Regions from separate parts of the Homo sapiens genome. Here region 1 is linked to region 2. Evidence: fine-mapped expression QTL. A gene starts in region 2. The other region holds a variant in brackets. All regions are shown on one strand. Distances are between the middles of the regions. Region 1 holds the start of LOC124906234 (a long non-coding RNA gene). Region 2 holds the start of CDC25A (cell division cycle 25A).

Region 1 (10,205 bases), 590 kb before region 2:
TGGAGATTGGACCAAATTACAATACACAAAGCAGTACTGAAGATAATTCAAATACAGACTCTCTGTCACTATAGAAAGAGGTCTATCTAAACAAAGACATACAAAGCTTCAAACCACACCCTGCCTATCTCCAGTGGCTGTTCCTTGATCTAAGAACCTGAGAGAGGAGCCCCTTACTTCAGGGGTGTCAATGAAGAGAACTACAATGAGGTATGAGAATTAGGAATAAGGGGCTGGGCACAGTGGCTCACACCTGTATTCCCAGCACTTTGCGAGGCCAAGGTGGGTGGATCACCTGAGGTCAGGAGTTCGTGACCAGCCTGACCAACATGGTGAAACCCCATTTCTACTAAAAATACAAAAATTAGCTGGGCTTAGTGGCATGCACCTGTAATCTCAGCTACTTGAGAGGCTGAGGCAGGAGAACTGCTTGAACCCGGGAGGTGGAGGTTGCAGTGAGCCAAGATTGCACCATTACACCCTAGCCTGGGCAACAAGAATGAAACTCCAAAAAAAAAAAAAAATAGGAATTAGGGTAGTCCAGTCTTCTAGGGACTACTTTTTAAAGCAAAGTACATCAACATTATGACCCAGAATGTACATAATAGAGAATTTTGGGCCCTGTGGCCCATCTTTCTGCACTCTATAATGTAACGCAAAGCCTAGCAGAGGAGTCTCAGAGATCCGCTTGCTGGAAAATAACTTGGTCAAATCACTTTGGCAAAATCAAGAGCAGCTGCTGGATCTACTCCTATGTGAACACTGCGACTAGGACCAACTGACCATCATTAATTTTTGTCTTTTTGTGCTTGTGCCGTGTATCTAGGACAGAAATAGGCAGTGTTGAAGAGTCTGCCAATCTAGGGACTGATTCAGGATAAAAGGGACAAATGGCAAGAACACTAAAGGCATACGAGGGATGAGTGCACATAAAGGAGTGAAAGGCAAACCAAGGAAAAACTATGGAAGGAGCAAGCCAAAAAAAATGAAGACTTTCCAGCTGATCAATAAAAATTTGTGAGTAACTTGGAATTGTGGATGAGATGTAAGTAAAGTGAAGGAAAGGGATTAGGGATAGGACTAATCCTAAAAACACCTGGGACAGCAGGGACCCAAGGACTCAGGCATCCTTGTGGCGGGACTGTGAGGCCACATGCTTGTAGATCCACAAACCAGTAAGAAATAATAGAAATCCTGGGTGCCTTGGCCCACCCCCAGGGGATATGCTGCAGCACAGCAGGTAGACCTTGATAAGATCTGCATACCTACATCCCTACAACCCATCCTGACTCCTGCTGCCACTCCTCTATTCTCCATCTCTGACCTGTTGTTGCAGGAATGTTACATAAGTGGAAGCACCGTTTGCAACATTTTGGGATTGGTTTTTTTTCACTCCAGGTAATTTCCTGGAGAGTCACCGGTTCTGTATGCAGCCACAGGCTGTTCCTCTCAGTGCTGGGTGGTGCTCCCTGCTGTGGATGGACCACACAGCCTGAAGAGGACATCTGGCGGTTCTCACTTTTTGGCTACTATGAATAATCTGCTAGGAAAGTTTGTGTACGGGTTAAAAAAAATTTTTTTTAAACACATGGCCAAGCGGGCGCGATGGCTCACGCCTGTAATCCCAGTACTTTGGGAGGCCGAGGCGAGATCACCTGAGGTCAGGAGTTCGAGACCAGCCTGGCTAACATGTTGAAACCCCATCTCTACTAAAAATACAAAAAAATTAGCGAGATGCGGTGGTGGGCACCTGTAATCCCAGCTACTCGGGAGGCTGAGGCAGGAGAATCGCTTGAACCGGAGAGGTGGAGGTTGCAGTGAGCCGAGAATGAGCCATTGCACTCCAGCCTGGGCAACAAGAGTGAAATTCCGTCTCAAAATAAATAAATAAATAAAATAAAATAAAATAAAATAAACACACAGCCAAGCCTAAGTTAAAACAATCAGAAAATAATGTTAATGTCACTCCCATTATTACTGAGAGGTACCATTTATATGCAGCATCTATATAAATACCATACCCTTTTGTGGTACCTTACTATCTTTCATCTGTATTACACCGAGGCTTATAAAGGTTTCTTTTTCTTTTTCTTTTTTTTTGAGACGGGAGTCTCACTCTGTTGCCCAGGCTGGAGTGCAGTGGGGCGATCTCGACTCACTGCAACCTCTGCCTCCCTGGTTCAGGTGAGTCTCCTGCCTCAGCCTCCCGAATAGCTGAAACTACAGGCACGTGCCACCACGCCCAGCTAATTTTTTTATTTTTAGTAGAGACCGAGTTTCACAATGTTGGCTAGGAAGGTCTCAATCTCTTGACCTCGTGATCTGCCTGCTTTGGCCTCCCAAAGTGCTGGGATTACAGGTGTGAGCTACCAAACCCGGCCAGGTTTTTTTTTTTTCTTTCCCAAAAACAAAAACAAAAACAAAACAAAACAAAACTGCTGGGTCTGTCATGATTCAAAGGAAAAAGGGCTATATTAATTCAAAAAGGAGTCATGCATGTAGAACAAGGGGTGAGGACTTCAAAAGTAAGGCTACAGAGGACTTAGTGAAAGGTTCTGAAAAGAAGAGAAGCTTGAACCTAATTTTCTGTGGGATGGAAAGCAATTTTTTAGAAAATGTTTAAGAGATGGAGTCTTGGCTGGGCGTGGTGGCTCACGCCTATAATCCCAGCACTTTGGGAGGGCAAGGCAGGTGGATCAAGAGGTCAGGAGTTCAAGACCAGCCCGGCCAAGATGGTGAAACCCCATCTCTACTAAAAATACAAAAATCAGCTGGGTGTGATGGTGGGCACCTGTAATCCTAGCTACTCGGGAGGCTGAGGCAGGGAATTGCTTGAACGTGGGAGGCGGAGGTTGCAGTGAGCCGAGATCATGCCACTGCACTCCAGCCTGGGTGACAGAGTCAGACTCCGTCTCAAAAAAAAAAAAATAAATAAATAAATAAGAAGAAGAAGAAGAAAAAAGATGGGGTCTTGCTACGTTGCCCAGGCTGGACTAGACCTCCTGGGCTCACGTGATTCTCCTGCCTCAGCCTCCTGTGTAGCTGGGGTTACAGGTGCATGCCACCATGCCCAGCTAGGATAGAAAGCTTTAAGAAGGGATGCAGAGGAGTTAGTGCCTAGAGCAGAGAAAAAGTGCCTTTGCAGAGAAGTATGGGCTGAATGTCAGGCTGATGAGACAGAAAGGAATAGGAGATGGAGATGGCACTCTGCAAGTTCCTTCTTTTTTTTTTTATTTTATTTTTTTAAAAGAGATGAGGTCTTGGCTAGGGGCGGTGGCTCCTGCCTGTAATCCCGGCACTTTGGGAGGCCGAGGCAGGCAGATGACGAGGTCAGGCATTTGAGACCAGCCTGACCAACATGATGAAAATAAAAAAATTAGCCAGGCGTGGTGGCACGCACCTGTAATCCCAGCTACTAAGGAGGCTGAGGCAGGAGTTGCAGTGAGCTGAGACTGCGTCACTGCACTCTAGCCTGGGCGACAGGGCGAGACTCAGTCTCAAAAAAAAAAAAAAAAAAGAGAGAGAGATGAGGTCTTGCTCTGTCACCCAGGCTGGAGTACAGTGGTATGGTCATAGCTCACTAAAGCAGTGAACTCCTGGGTTGAAGTGATGCCCCCGCCTCAACTTCCTGAGTAGCTAGGATTACAGGTGTGCACCACCACGTCAGCTAATTTATTTATTTATTTTATTTTTTATTTTTTAATTTTTTGAGACGGAGTCTCACTCTGTTGCCCAGGCTGGAGTGCAGTGGTGCAATCTCCGCCTCCCGGGTTCATGCCATTCTCCTGCCGCAGCCTCCCGAGTAGCTAGGACTACAGGCACCCGCCACCACGCCCGGCTAATTTTTTGTATTTTTAGTAGAGATGGGGTTTCACCATGTTAGCCAGGATGGTCTCGATTTCCTGACCTCATGATCCGCCTGCCTCGGCCTCCCAAAGTGCTGGGATTACAGGCGTGAGCCACCATGCCCGGCCCACGCCAGCTAATTTTTTATAGAGATGGGGCCTTGCTATGTTGCCCAGGCTGGTTTCAAACTCCTAGGCTCAATGATCCTCCTAACTCAGTCTCCTGAGTTGCTGGGACTATGGGTGTGAGCTATTGTGCCCAGCCACAGGTTCTGTAAAAAGAGGCATCCTCGGGATTGGAGACAGAGCAAGAAGGAAGGGCGAGCATGGAGCTGAGATGGAAAATGAATTTGGGTTTGGTATCTGACTGCTGGGAGTGTGAAGATGGGATGACGTGAAGAGGACACAGAACTTTTTGCTTTGGGAACAGATGTAGGCTGGGCAGCCATATAGTGAAATACAGAGGTATCGGTGAAGGGAAGGTATAGAACTCCCAGAGTTTCAAATAGAGCAGTGGCAAACAGAGACTTACTATTCTAAGATTCTCCACAAACTGCCAAAGAGGCACCTTTGTTTTTAAGGTGGTACTGTCCCAGCTCCCTTTTGGAAGCCCTTTTTTTGTTCTCTTCCTACCCCACATCACCTGCTAGGCCATTAATAAAAGCAATGCTTTGTTTTCCACACTCTAAATCACTACTAATGATTCTCTAATGGTATTCTAGGTGGCGTGAAGGACAACAGGAGATGATTTTGTTGCTGCTGGAAACAGGAGGCCTACT[T/C]TTAAAACTAAAAAGTACAATATTCTAGCCTGCAGACGAAAGAACACTCCTAATGGACTTGTTGTGACAAAGGGAAGCCATATACTAGGAGAAATAATGCTGCCCATGTTTATCAACAGGTACAGGTTGCTCGCTTCCACCAAGTCCGACCTGGACAGAGGCCTTAAACAAGTTAGGAAGAACATATTGCCGCCCTTCACAGGTCTCCTCCTCTCTCTCTCAATCCCTGAGCTTTGGTTTCCTGAGATTTTATTGATTAAAGCTATGTATGTGGCCCAGTGCAGTGGCTCATGCCTGTAATCCCAGTACTTTGGGAGGCTGAGGTGGGTGGATTACTTGAGGTCAGCAGATCAAGACCAGCCTGGCCAACATAGTGAAACCTCGTCTCTACTAAAAATATAAAAATCAGCTGTGTGTGGTGGTATATGCCTGTGGTCACAGCTACTTGGGAGGCTGAGGAGAAGATAGTTTGAACCTGGAAGGTGGAGGATGCAGTGAGCTGAGATCACGCCACTGCACTCCAGCCTGGGCTACAGAGGGACTCTGTCTCAAAAAAAAAAAAAAAAAAAAAAAAAAGAGAGAGAGAGACACACACACACACACACACACACACAGAGACAAAGACAGAGAGAGAAGAAGGTGATGTAAAGATGGAGCAAAGAGAGACGTGGCCGTAAGACAAGGAATGCTGCAAGCCACCGGAAGTTGGAAGAGACAAGGAACAGGATTCTTCCCTATATACCTTGGAAGGAGCATGGCTTTGCTGGATATTGGACCTGATTTCCCAGAGAGTAAGAATACATTTCTCTTGTTTTAAGTTATTCTGACAGGCTGTGCGCAGTGGCTCACACCTATAATCCCAGCACTTTGGGGGGCTGAGGAGGGCGGATCACCTGAGGTCAGGAGTTTGAGACCAGCCTAGCCAACATGGTGAAACCCTGTCTCTACTAATAATACAACAATTAGCCAGGAGTGCACATGCCTGTAATACCAGCTACTTGGGAAGCTGAGGCAAGAGAATCACTTGAACCCGGGAGGTAGAGGTTAGAGTGAGCAGAGATCACACCACTGCACTCCAGCCTGAGCGACAAAAGCAAACTCTGCCTCAAAAAAGTTATTATAGCAGCCTCAGGAAACTACGTAGGAAACATGTGCTATGCCTTAGGCACTATATTTAAGAGTTTTATAAATGTTAACTCATTCAATCCCCATAACAACACTATAAACCAGGCACTATTATCCCTGTGGAAGAAAGGGAAGGACACAAAGATTAAGTAGCTTGCCCAATGTCATAAAGCATGTAAATGAGGGAGCTCAGATCTGATACAGGTACTCTGATTCTAGAGATGGTGCTTGCAGCCAGTGTGCACCCCTGACAATCAAGGTCTGGGGGAGAGGGGTCCAACAGGTGCTCAGAGACGACGTGATGCAAACCCTGGTGTCACCAAACTGATTGATCCATTATTTGCCCCATGCTCAGCTCCAGACAGAAATTACTTTCTGAACCCGCAATTCAGAATATATGTTCCAGCAGAGAAATCAACTATTCAAGAAATAATCTGGCAAAGAGGAGCATCACTGGCTGATTGACAAACACCCACAAAGTGATGTCTACCTATCATGCACTGGGAAATGCCTGCAGGCTCTTGCTCTTAGGCCCAGTAGTACTATTTCCAAAGCTATCTGCTCAGTGGCAGTGGCCCATTTACCTATTACCCTACATCTTTATGAATACAAGCTGGAATAGGGCAGCTTTAGGGTTTTCCAAGGCTGTTAGCCCAACAGCTAAAAAAACCTTTCTTTTCATTTATTATAAATTCTAAAGCCTTGTGAAAAAGATTCTTTATCCTATTGTCACAAACAAGGTCATAAAGCCACTGGGATACAGGTGTTCTGAGTATGAGAGGACAACGGCTCCTTGGCAGCAAAAATGAAGGTCTAGAGGAAAAGCAATTTACTTCTGCTTATGGCACCCTGCAAAAACAAACATCTCTCAGGAAAGCAAGAGGTACCTAAGAGTGAATGATGTCCCTTTGCCATTCAGAGGTTCCTTCTGTCAGATGCTAAGCAACTCAGCACTGGTGTACCTGGGGCAGTGGGTTTAGAGAAAAGACAGGAAAGGAGGTAAGAATAAGGTTGAGTAAGGGTTGACCGTGCCAGGTGATTTGACAGTTATCTCTCTGAAGTCTCCAGGTTGTTAGTAAGATGATGGTAAGGGCCTAGTTTTGAGATAAGGAAACTAAGCCTCAGAGAAGCTATGTAATTTGGCGCAAAGTCACAATGAACAAGAGACTGAGCTGAGATTCAAATCCAGGTCTCTCTGACCCTGAGGTCCATTCTCTTTTCCTTTACCCCACCTTCCTTTCTAAGGAGTAACTTTCCCCTTAGAAAAGGTAACTTCCAAGGATGAAATCTGAAATGGGGTAGAATTTAAGAAGACTCAGGAGAAGACAAAATCAATTTCGCACAAAGCAACCCTTGTCCTTAAGAAGTCTAAACATCTTTATGGGTTTTTGTGGTGTCTGATATAGGTCTCACCACTTTTAAATGAACAACAGTGTCTGCATTTCCATTAATTCTTACTAACATTAAGAGATCTGGCCCACACAAATCTGAAATGCATAGGAACAGGCCTTAGCAAACAAAGTAAAGGATGTATGTCTTTTCCATTAAAAAAAAAAAATCAGGTATTTTTTCCCAGCAGACAGGGAGAGGAAGAAAATGAGAGAGAGAGAGAGAGAGAGAGAGAGAGAGAGAGAGAGAGAGAGAGAGACATGGCATCAAAACAGCAGTATCAAAAGCTTAGAATGGTGGGAGTCTGACCTACATACAAGCTTTTTTTCTTTTCTTTTTTCTTTTTTTTTTTTAAACAGCAGGCATCTGAAGCCTGAAAAATTAAAAGCTTTGCTAAAATTAGGTTTAACTAGTAGAAAAATCCCTCATTCTCTCTCAGGTTTATTGTATCTTTTACTAAAGCATTACACTCATGACACTTAATGGAATATTAGTAAAGGACCTTAATTTTATACTTTGGGTTGGGAAAGGAGGGTAGGAAAAGAAAGTGAATCTAGGAAAGGGAACCTGTGAATTTCCAGTCTTGAGCACATTTCATCAATCCATTTCTAACTGTCTATAGCACATCCTCTGGCTGAGTCTCCTGGAGAATGGAAATAACAAAATCAGGGCCAAGTGAGGGGAAGCCCAGGCTCCTCAGAGACTGTGCCTTCCCCACAGCAGCTTCCTGGGGATGCCTGTGACAGACTCTCTTTGTTGAAGACTGGGCCCTCACTGTTCTCTTTGTGAGGGTAACCTGCTACTCCGGAAAGTAGCATGGCTACTCCGGAAAGTAGCATGTAAGTAGGACCAAAGGCACCGCAGATAATAAAATCTTGGCTGATGTGATGGGCTACGGCTTTTTTTTTCTTTTTTTTTTTTTTTGAGATGGAGTCTCACTCTTGTCGCCCAGGCTGGAGTGGTGCAGTGGTGTGAACTCGGCTCACTGCAACCTCTGCCTCCTGGGTTCAAGCGATTCTCCTGCCTCAGCCTCCTGAGTAGCTAGGATTACAGTTGCCTGCCACCACACCCGGCTAATTTTTGTACTTTTAGTAGAGGTGGGGTTTTGCCATGTTGCCCAGGCTGGTCTTGAATTCCTGACCTCAGGTGATCCACCCACCTCGGCTTCCCAAAGTGCTAGGATTACAGGCATGAGCCACCATGCCCGGCCAGGCTATTGCTTTTCTTTTTCGGTGTGGGGTTGAGTCCAGGGGTGGGTTAGAAAGTGGTGATTGGTTGTAATCCTTTCCTGAGCTTTATTTCTCATGAGGTAGGGTTGTGTAAGTAGGTGTGAGGGGCTTAAAAAGCCAACTGTAGCTGGGTGTGGTAGCACATGCCTGTAAGTCCCAGCTACTCAGGTGGCTGAGGTGAGAGGATTGCTTGAGCCCAGGAATTCGAGGCTGCAGTGGGCCATGACTGCACCACTGTACTCCAGGCTGGGCGACACAGCAAAACCCTGTCTCAAAAAAAAGTTCCAGTTTTTTTAAAAGACAGGGTCTTGCTCTATCGCCCAGGCTGGAGTGCGGTGGCACAATCTTGGCTAAATGCAGCCTTGACCTCCTGGGATCAAGTGATCCTTCTGCCTCAGCCTCCCAAGTAGTTGGGACCACAGGCACACGCCACCACACCAAGCAAATTTTTTTTATTTTTGTAGAGAGAGGGTTTCACCATGTTGCCCAGGTTGGTCTCGAACTCCTGAGCTCAAGCAATCTGCCTGCCTTGGCCTCCCAAAGTGCTGGGATTACAGGCGTAAGCCATCATTTCCAGCCCATTCTAGTTTTAACATTAGAATACCATTGTATTATGTCTGAGTTCTCATCAAATCAGACCAATTCTATTCTGATTTTCAAGGCACTTCCAAAAATTCTTCCACTATTAATAATGAGGAAACAATGAAAATATTTAAATCAAACATGTTCTTTCCTTCTGCTTTCACACATAGAGTACACACGAAGGCTTCCCCAGTGCAGGCAGCTGACTTAAGATCCATGAGGCAGGAATGTTCAAGAGTGCCTCATTTATTACAAATGCCTAGGACGGGCTGGGCCTAGTGGCTCAATCCTATAGTCCCAGCACTTTGGGAGGCCAAGGCGAGAGGATCGCGTGAGCTCAAGAGTTTGAGACCAACCTGGGCAACATAGTGAGACCTTGTCTCTACTAAAATACATCCATGCCTATGGAGAGCAGAGCTTACCACTGTAATTATACACTAGATTTCTGTCATTTCCTTCTAACTTAATGATAGGTAATCTTCCTTTAAACATGTGCTGAAGTTCCTACAGTCCTGACCATCTCAACTTAAAGGAGATCCCGCCGGGTGCAGTGGCTCACACCTGTAATCCCAGCACTTTGGGAGGCTGAGGCGGGTGGATCACCTGAGGTCAGGAGCTCAAGACCAGCCTGGCCAACATGGTGAAACCCTGTCTCTACCAAAAATAAAAAAATTAGCTAGGCATGGTGGCAGGTGCCTGTAATCCCAGCTACTCGGGAGACTGAGGCAGGAGAATTGCTTTAACCTGGGAGGTAGAGGTTGAGGTGAGCCAAGACTACAAAATTGCACTCCAGCCTGAGTGACAAGAGCAAAACTCTGTCTAAAAAAAGAAAAAAAAAAAAGGAGATCCCAAGCAGTCAGAGGTGCCCTCCTGCTTGAGTAAGCAGCACACCTCAGCAAACAGCAGCCACCACCTAGGCCATTCTCCTCTGTGGTTCCCCATGTGCTTTCATATTAACAGATACCATGGCCCAGGGTGTGGTCAAGGGAATACCACACATGTGCTTAAGAATTGGTTTCTATTATGACTATTCACCTTTTGCCATCTGGAATGGCAGTCTTATAGGGAGAATCTTAATGTAGGCATCATTTGATATAATTTTATAGTTTAAATGAAAAGGAATGAAATGCAATGCTGTGTATTTCATTAAGATCAACAAAACCTAAAGGTGGTCTAAGAACAGTTGGGGCCAACCTCAGTTTCCATTTGCCAACTGGATACCAGAAACATTCTACTACAGATACTTCCCGTGTCTT
Region 2 (10,205 bases):
GACCCCCATGTCTACAAAAAATACAAAAATCAGCCGGGTGTGATGGTGTGCACCTATATATAGTCCCAGCTCCTCTGGAAGTTGAGGTGGGAGGATCACTTGAGCCAGGGAAGCAGAGGTTGCAGTGAGCCAAGATTTTGCCACTGCACTCCAGCCTGGGTGACAGAGCAAGACCTTGTCTCAAAAGAGACTAAAGAAAAGCAGTTTTTACTCTCTAAATTAAGTCTCCTATCAAGGTCATGCTGGTAGCTAAGGAACAGATAACAGGTATTAGCTCAAAATAAACAAGGAACTAACTTACAGGTAGGGAATGTATTCTTCTCATAGGATTTTCAAGGCTGTAATGAGATCAGAAGGTAAATAATGAGAATAAAACAAGTAAAGAGGTATTCATATTAGCAGAGAGATAGTGTTTAGCCTGTAGCTTGGGGGTACAGTCACAGACTCCCATTTTAGGCAAGAGATGGGAGAATAAATTTCTGAAGCTGTCCTGTTCTCAGGAGCACCCCCAACACTAGACTTCTAGGTGAAAAAAAACAAACCCATGTCTTTTCTTAAAATACACACATTCGGCTGGGCGCGGTGGCTCACACATGTAATCCCAGCACTATGGGCACTATGGGAGGCCGAGGAGGGTATATCACGAGGTCAGGAGTCTCGAACTCCTGGCCTGGCCAACACGATGAAACCTCGTGTCTACTAAAAATACAAAAATTAACCGGGTGTGGTGGTGCACTCCTGTAGTCCCAGCTACTCGGGAGGCTGAGGCAGGAGAATCAGTTGAACCTGGGAGGTGGAGGTTGCAGTGAGCCACTGCACTCTAGCCTGGGCGGCAGAGTGAGACTCTGCCTCAGAAACAAACAAACAAACAAACAAAAAAACCCCACATGTTCTTGTAAGGCTATGATGTCAGAGCACAGAGTAAGGGTTTGGGTAAGACCCAAACAGAACACCAAAATTATAGCTAAAATAAAGGAGAAAAAGTTCTGAAAATTGCTGACACAAACTATTCATTCTTGAGATTCCAGAGTGTTTCTAGGCACAGGTAAATCCAGGGCTCCAGTCCAGTGTATGAAGAACTTCATTTAAATAAGGTATTTAAGTTTAGACACGTTTTTTCTACATATAAACATTTGAAAGCAGTGAATACATACTTTTCTTTACTGTCCAATGGCCCAGGAGAATCTAGACAGAAACCTATGGGGAAAAAAAAAACCTCTCAAGAAATAATACAAAAAACACCATTTTGTCATTAAAATTAAAACACTAAACAAAGTACCTGGGTCTTTATTTAAGTCAGGCAACAAATATTCATGGCTTGTACTTTTGCCAGAATTGATGTTACGTCTATTAGATTGTCAAAAATGTCATGTTTGTACAAGTCTTAATATTTTCATAGCGTATTTACTGTTTTTTCTCCTATTTGCAAATAACATCAAGGGAAATAGGATTTGAGAAGAGGGTGAATAAAACTGATTCATATCATGATTGTTTGGTTATTCAGATAGAGGTGACCCAGATAACTTTCTGTGAGTTCCAACCATAGAAACAATAGGTACCAGATTTTCTTGGCATAGTTTTTAAACGTTTTACCTTGTCAAATCATATGAGGCTTGAAAAATACAACTACTGACCAGGCACAGTGGCTCACACCTGTGATTCCAATACTTTGGGAGGCTGAGGCAGGCTGATGGCTTGAGGCCACAAGTTCAAAACAAGCCTGGGGCAACATAGTGAGACTTGACTCTACCAAAGTTAAAAAAAAAATTAGTTGGGTGTGGTGGCACGTGTCTGTAGTCCCAGCTACTTGGGGAGGCTGGAGTGGGAGGTTCGCTTGAGCTCGGAAAGTTGAAGCTACAGTGAACCCTGATTGTGCCACTGTACACCAGCCTGAGACCTGGAAAACAGAGCAAGACCCTGTCTCAAAAAAAAAAAAAAAAAAAGGCCAGGTGCAGTAGCTCACCCCTGTAATCTCAGCACTTTGGGAGGTCGAAGTGGGTGGATCACCTGAGATCAGAAGTTTGAGACCCACACCTGTAATTCCAGCTACTAGGGAAGCTGAGGCAGAAGAATTCTCTAAATCTGGGAGGCAGAGTTGCCTGGGTGACAGAGTTGAGACCTTGTCTCAAAATGAAAAAGAAAAATACAACTACTGGTCATGACATGCAAGGCAAGCACTTGCTGCCTTTAACAAAATGACACCAAGGTGTCCATCTCACAAAAGGCAGCAGGGTGAAGGAGACACTGTTCAGCATTACTAATATGCCAGCTCAGATGACGCAGACCCACCCACCCATAGCTCATGTGTCTATACAGCCTTATGGAAAGTGAGGTGTTACAGCCCTTGCTCACCACACTGCTACAAGTGATAATCCTATCCCCAGTTCTATATTAAATTACATTCTACATACAGAAGCCTACATTACATTTTAAGACTTGCTCTTGCAGTTCCTTTAACCTAAAGGATCTTTGCACCAATGGTCTTATCTGTACAAATACAGATAAACTCTGCAGTAATATGAATTCATGAAGAATGAAATGCACTGGCAATTTCCTCCATAGCAGCATCACTGAAATGATTTCATGACACTGTACTTCCAATCATTTGATCCTGTATTTTAACCAGTAAGATTGCCTGAATGCCACTTACAGTGGTATGGTGAATTATACTTTACTACCCATCCTTCAAGGGCAAGCACACACCACCTCCTTATAGACATTTGAAACCTATTTCCTTTCTTCATAAACAGCCACAAGGGCTCCTTTGTATTGTTCTCAATAATGTTTATCACCGGGCGCGGTGGCTCACGCTGTAATCCCAGCACTTTGGGAGGCCGAGGAAGGCGGATCACCTGAGGTTGTGAATTCGAGACCAGGCTGACCAACATGAAGAAACCCTGTCTCTACTAAAAAATACAAAATTAGCCGGGTGTGGTGGTGCATGCCTGTAATCCCAGCTACTCGGGAGGCTGAGGCAGGAGAATCACTTGAACCCGGGAGGTGGAGGTTACAGTGAGCTGAGATCATGCCATTGCACTCCAGCCTGGGCGACAAGAGCGAAACTCTGTCTCAAAAAAAAAAAAAAAAAAGTTTATCACCCAATGCCATGACTTCCTCAAGTTCTCACCAAAACTAACCTCCTGGGTGAAAAGGCATGTTTCAGGAAATTCAGAGTATTGCTCCCCACACAGCAGACTTAAATACCTGAATCTGTTGACTCGGAGGAGCCCATTCTCTGCAGATTACTGTTGTTCTTCACCTCCAGTGGTTGCTCATAATCACTGAAACCAACAGAAATAAACCATGAATGATTTATAGGATATAATTAAAAGGTCACATGCAGGAGATAGGCCATGAGATTAAGAAGCAGCCAGGCTGCCAGAAACCATTTCTAGGCCACACCACAAGTGGCAAAGATCCCACTTTGCCACTCTGAACACCCAATTAGCACTTGGGCAAAGGAGAAAAAAGGAGTGGGTGGGCATGGCCTTGGACCACATTGCAGGTTATGATGGCTATGGCAAATGTTGGGGTATTTCCTAAAATAAAAGCATGTGTTCTAAGTACTGAGACAGAGTCGGGATGAAAGTTGAACAGGACACTTTCTGCTTTTCAGAAGTTGGGAAACGCACAAGACATGTGCTTAGCAAACGGGATGCCAGAGATTGAAGGGAAAGTAGCTCTTCCGCGGGAAACACCGTGGGATGCATTTTTTGCTATCAGGAAAAGCCCAGGAAGCTTTCTGAAAGTTGGGTAAAAAGACCTGGCCTTAGGAAAGCAGCAGAGTGGACATCAGGAATGTGCACAGGGCGAGGGACTGAGATGATTTTACATAAACGCCAGGAAAGAAAATGCCATGGTCCTTTGTTGAGAAGGAACAAAGATCACAGCAAACGAAGATCCTGAGGATGGTTTAGCAAAGGGTGAAAGTGAGTGCCTAGAAGAGCCTGATTTTCCCCGCGGGGGTAGATTCCAAAGAGCTTCCAGGGATAGAGATAGAAGGAGAGTACGGAGCAATCCGAAAGGGGTGAAGGTGGGCCTGGCTCGGGCTTAGGCCCAAGGATCTCCACCTCTTCCCCTGGAAGGTCCCGACGGCCTCTCCCGCCCAACATTCCGCCCGGGCGGGGGTGCACATGGCAGGCCCTAGCCCGGCTGTCCCCGAGCGGCGAACCCGGACGGACGGGTCTCGCCCTTCTCCCGGTCCGTTTCCTGGCCTGATCTCTCCGAGGCCGACACCGAGGCCAGGGGCCCGGAGCACCGCCCGCCGGTCTCTCCTTACCTGCCCAGACCCTGCAGCTGGTCCATAGTGACGGTCAGGTTGGTGACAGGCGACAGTCCCCCGGCGGCTGAAGCGCCAAATAGCGCCTTCACGACGGGCTGCGACGCGGGAGGGGGGCTGCAGGCGAAGAGCAGGCGGCGGCGGTGCGGGGGCTCCGGGCCCAGTTCCATGGCGGCGCCCGGCCTCGCAGAGCTCCCGCTCCCTCTTCCTCTGCCTCCGCCGCGACCGCCCCGCCCCGCCGACACCGGCCTCGGCCGCGCGCCACCGGCGCCCGCGGGTCAAACACAAACACGACTCCGCGGTTCAGGGACGCGGCTGCCGCGGGCAAGCGGCGCGGCCGGGCGGGTGTGCGGACCCTCCAGGCGCCAGCCACCAGCCACAGGCACGGGTGCTTCCCTCTCACACCGCGAGGCCAGCGGGCGGGCGGGCGCCGGCAACCTGAAGATTAAATCCAAACAAACGTGGCGGGTCGGCAAGAGAAGCCGGGCGAGAGCCTCGAGGCAACGGCCCAGGCTCACGCTGTCTTCGCTGTTCTCCCACCCGCTTGCCCAGCTCCGGGTAGCAGAAAACCAAGCCGACCTACACCTCTTACCCAGGCTGTCGCAGCCAGGCCGGCCTTTCGCGGTAATAGCGGCTCAGTGGGGCCAGCTGCTGCCCCGCCCCCCTTTCCTAGTTGGCGCCAAACGGAATCCACCAATCAGTAAGCAACTTCTCCTCCTCTCAACCGAATGGCAGCTAGGCTGGGCCAATGAGAGGGGAAGAAGAAAGCGGCTCGCGGGACTCTGCCAGGTCATCGGCTCTCAGAAGGGGGCGGAGCCCAGAGCAGAAGAGCGGGGATCAAAATGAGAGGGGGAGCAGAGGTCAATGAAAACTCCCAGCAGAACCTGCGAGGCGCTGCTCGCGGCTGAAAGGCCCCTTTGCCCCGTCGCATGCTGGGAAGCGTAGTTCCCATCGCGAGCTGCCGTCCAGTTAGCTTCGGCCCCCTTTGGGCCTCCGCTACCTCGCCCCCAGCCGGGCGCCCCACACTCTGAGGCAATGTGGAGGCTAAGGAAGACCTGTGGAGGTCTGGCCGGATCCAGCCTTGGCTCGGCCTCTAACCGTGCAGTATTGTGGACCCCTTTCTTCCGCCCCGGGCCTCCAGGCCCCATTTTATAATGAGGGAGGGAATGCAATGACCCCCAGGACTGGACTCGACCACCAGGGCCCAACTCTGGAGGGCTCACAGACCCTGGGTGCTGCTGGCCTCATGGGATTTGAACCCCGCAGTACAACCTGTGCTGTGGGCCTCAGCATTTTTTGCTCACTTCCATTCTAGCCCTTATTGGATGCTCTTAGAATCATTTCTTTCTTTCCCACCACTTCTTAGCCCCCTGGGAGCTCCTAGAGAGAAATAACAGCAAACACAATAATAGCAAATAATAGCTAAAGTTTACATAATGCTTATGCACTTGACACTGTTCCCAGTGTGTTAATCTGTATTAATTCATTTAATCTTTACAACTCTGTGACATAGGAATTATCCCCATTTTCTAAGTGGGCATATTTACTTTTACAGCGCCGAACCTGTGGCAGCTCCTAGACGGATTTTGAGGGCCATAAGTGCATGATTTAATTGCAACCTACTGCTGGGCTTAGTGGCTCACGCCTATCATCCCAGCACTTTGGGAGGGCGAGGTGGGAGGATTGCCTGAGCCCACGAATTTGAGACCAGCCTGGGCAACAAAGTGAGACACCCCCTGCCCCCCACTCAAAAAAAAAAAACCCTACAGTTTGAAAAGCCATGCTGGACAGGTGGAAACCCCAAACCTTTGGCCCCAACACCAGACCCTTCACAGTGAGGAACCTCTCTCTCAGGATTCATCTCCTTTTCTGTGCACCAGTGCTCCACCACCCAGGAACCTCCCTTCCCTCCAGAAACCCCAGGCTATTTAGGCCTCTCTGCACAGTTCACATGGTCTGTGGTCCCACTGTTTCAAATAGTTCTCCCTGTCGTATCTCTGAATACTTTCCTCTCCTCCTGTGTTTTATGTGGTTTAATACTTGGCTCAACAGGCCGGGAGCGGTGGCTCACGCCTGTAATCCCAGCACTTTGGGAGACCGAGGCGGGCGGATCACGGGGTCAGGAGATCGAGACCATCCTGGCTAACATGGTGAAACCCCGGCTCTACTAAAAATACAAAAAATTACCGGGCGTGGTGGCGGGCGCCTGTAGTCCCAGCTACTCGGGAGGCTGAGGCAGAAGAATGGCTGAACTCGGGAGGCGGAGCTTGCAGTGAGCCAAGACCGAGCCACTGCACTCCAGCCTGGGCAACAGAGCGAGACTCCGTCTCAAAAAACAAAAACAAAACTTGGCTCAACATTCCTGTTACTGCATTCATTCATTCAACATATGTTTATTTAAGGATTACTAGAACAAATTCAGTGCTTGAAATAATACCACAATCCCTGCTCTCAGGGAGCTCTGGTCCGCTGAGCATAAAGCTCCTTCTAATAATGGAATTATTACCATGACAATAGCTGTGGTTTGTGGAGGGATGGTGGGCACCTAGAGGAGGGGCGGGGACTGGGGAAGGCAGTACGGTGGGGGGCACGTCCTAAAGGAGATTAAAACTAAAGGTCAAGGTTGCTGGAGAAGGGGAGCTTGGGGCTGGTGGGAAGTGCTTTCTAAGGAAACGGCCCTCGGCAGCCAGGAGGTGAGGAGGAACGCCGTACTTGCCGGGAGCTACTCCTGAGTTGATCCAGTCGGTTCTAGAATGGGCACATGGGACTGGCTGTGAGGGACAGTTCTTGAAAGGATTGGAGTTTGCTGAAGAGTTTGGCCTTATCCTGTGGACAGTGGAGGGTGTGTGATAACCGGATCAGATTTGCTTTAGGGTGGATCAGTGGAGGAGAGTGGGGAGGCCTGAGGAAAAAGGAGGTGGCTGTCTCAAAAGTCTGGGAGATTCTGAAGCAAGGTGGGGGCCTTGGAGACAAAGGAAGGGAATGATTCTGTGAGCCCTGAAGGAGGTAGATCTCATCAGATTTTGATAATTGAGAGTTAAGATTGTAGGGGGCTAGAGGGAAGGGAGGAGGCTAGAATGATTCTTAGGTAATGATTCAAGTACCTGGGTGGATGTAACATTTCAACAATTGGAGGCATACTTCTTGGAGGAATTTGATGAGCTCAGTTTTGTGCTGGTGGACTGGCTGGGGGGTGTAGTCAGGAGGCAGATTTGGTGTTGATTAGCATGAAGATGGTAATGCCCATTGAGGATGTACAAAGGGTTTTTAGGACCCTGGATCTGGGGAGCACCAGCATTGAGGACTTGATGTAGTGAGACAGGACCGCAAAGCTGGGGCTGAGATAGAAACCACAAGGGAGTAGCCGAGTCCATAGTTCAGAGGTGCACCCAGGAGAGTCACTGAAGGTGGCCAGAATGAGGTCACAGGCAACTATGGAAATCATGTAGGAAGGCGAGGAGGTGGCCACAGAAGGCCATGGGAAGGGAAAAGTTGGCACAGAAGCTACAATACAGTTCAAGTGTGCCAAAATGCATGTACACAAATATTCATGGCCATGTTAATCATTTTAGCTCCAAACAGAAAGCAACCCTAATGCCCATCAACAATAAAATGGGTAAATAGAACAAAGTTATTTTATACAGTGATGAAAAGGACAGAAGCGCTACCCACAGTAGGAGTGAATCTCACATCAATGTCAAACATAAGAAGGAAGACACAAAAGAGAACATGCTGTTTAGGTCTGGCTCACACCTGTAATCCCAGCACTTTGGGAGGCTGAGGCAGGCGAATCACTTGAGGCCAGGAGTTCGAGACCAGCCTGGCCAACATAGTGAAACCTCATCTCTACTAAAAAAAAATATATATATATATACACACACACACATATATGTGTGTATATATACATAATATACATACATGTGTATATATACATAATATACATATATATGTGTACATACATATACATATATATGTATATATACATATACATATATATGTATATATACATATACATATATATGTATATATACATATATACACACATATGTAATATACATATATACACACATGTAATATACACAAACATATATATACACACATATATACATACACAAAAATTAGCCATGTATGGTGGTGCACAACTGTAATCCCAGCTACTATGGAGGCTGAGGCATGAGAATTGCTTGAACCCAGGAGGTGGAGGTTGCAGTGAACCGAGATTGAGCCACTGCACTCCAGCCTGGGTGACAGGGCGAGACTCCGTCTCAAAAAAAAAAAAAGTTAGTTATGGTACTAGTTACCTTTCAGAAAGATGGTGGTGACTGCAAGGGGCCATGAAGGGGATATTGGCAACTGGTCATATTCTGTTTCTTATTTATTTTTCACTTTTTGAGACAGAGTCTTGCTCTGTGGCCCAGGTTGGAGTGCAGTGACATGATCATGGCTCACTATAGCCTCGAACTTCTGGGTTCAAGTGATCCTCCCACCTCAGCTTCCTGAGTAGCCTGAACTACAGGCATGCACCCATAAACCTAGCTAATTAAAAATTTTATTTTTTATTTTGGCTGGGCATGGTGGCTCACGCCTGTAATCCCAGCACCTTGGGAAACCGAGGTGGGTGGATCATGAGGTCAGGAGTTCGAGACCAGTGTGGCCAACATGGCAAAACTCCGTCTCTACTAAAAATACAAAAAATTAGCCGGGTGTGGTGGCACACGCCTGTAATCCCAGCTACTTGGGAGACTGAGGCAGTAGAATCACTTGAACCCAGGAGGCGGAGGTTACAGTGAACTGAGATCATGCCATTGCACTCCAGCCTGGGCAACAGAGCAAGACTCTGTCTCAGAAAAAAATATATGTATAATTTTAGAGACGGGAGTCTAACTATGATGCCCAGGCTGGTCTCAAACTCTCGAGCTCAAGCGATCCTCCCGTCTTGGACTCCCAAAGTGTTAGCATTATATGCATGAGCCACTGCACCTGGCCACTTTCCATTTCTTGATCTGGGTGCTGGTTACCTGAGTGTGTTCACCTTGTGGAAATTCATTGAGCTACACACTCAAGATTTGTTAGCTGTTCTGTATGAATGGTGTATTTCAATGAAATGTTTATTATTAGTGATAAAAAGCCTTTCCTTGATGCCACTTTCCCCTCCAACTATATTCATTCCTTCCCTTCACAGTAAAACTCCTGGCCGGGCACAGTGACTCACACCTGTAATCCCGGCACTTTGGGAGGCCGAGGTCAGGAGTTCAAAACCAGCCTGGCCAACACGGTGAAACACCATCTTGGCCGGGCATGGTGGCTCACGCCTGTAATCCCAGCACTTTGGGAAACCGAGATGGGTGGATCATGAGGTCAGGAGTTCAAGACCAGCCTGGCTAACATAGTGAAACCCCATCTCTACTAAAAATACAAAAAATTAGTGGTGCGTGGTGGTGGGCACCTGTAATCCCAGCTACTTGGGAGGCTGAGGCAAGAGAATTGCTTGAACCTGGGAAGCGGTGGTTGAAGTGAGTGGAGATGGCACTACTGCACTCCAGCCTGGGTGACAGTGCGAGACTCCCTCTCAAAAAAAAAAAAAAAAAAGAAAAGAAAGCCCCATCTCTACTAAAAATACAAAAATTAGCCAGGCATGGTGGTGGGCGCCTGTAATCCCAGCTACTCAGGAGGCTGAGGCAGGAGAATTGCTTGAGCCGGGAGGCAGAGATTGCAGTGAGCAGAGATCAGGACACTGCACTCCAGCCTGAAAGACAGAGCAAGACTCCCTCTCAAAAAAAAAAAAAACCCAAAAAACAAAACACAGTAAAACTCCTCAAAAAAGTTGTCTCTAATTTCTCTCCTCACATTTTCTCTTGGACCCACTGTCATCAGACATTGATTTTCCCCACTCCATGGAAGTGGCTTTTTTTTTTTTTTGAGATGG

The links.
Region 1: its variant is fine-mapped to the expression of CDC25A in whole blood (TOPMed, PIP 0.91).

The regions. Positions count from the first base shown.
Region 1 is chr3:47,593,652-47,603,856 of GRCh38, forward strand. The region is part of intron 26 of SMARCC1 (SWI/SNF related BAF chromatin remodeling complex subunit C1); the gene reads right to left. LOC124906234 (a long non-coding RNA gene) reads left to right here and starts at 6,572. Exons shown (of 3, transcript XR_007095902.1): 1 at 6,572-6,632. The variant T/C (reference allele first, on the strand shown) is at 4,625.
Region 2 is chr3:48,183,499-48,193,703 of GRCh38, forward strand. CDC25A (cell division cycle 25A) reads right to left here and starts at 4,919. Exons shown (of 15, transcript NM_001789.3): 1 at 4,280-4,919; 2 at 3,205-3,281; 3 at 1,155-1,197; 4 at 302-338. The coding sequence starts at 4,449. RefSeq lists an enhancer at 4,004-4,632 and a silencer at 4,376-4,585.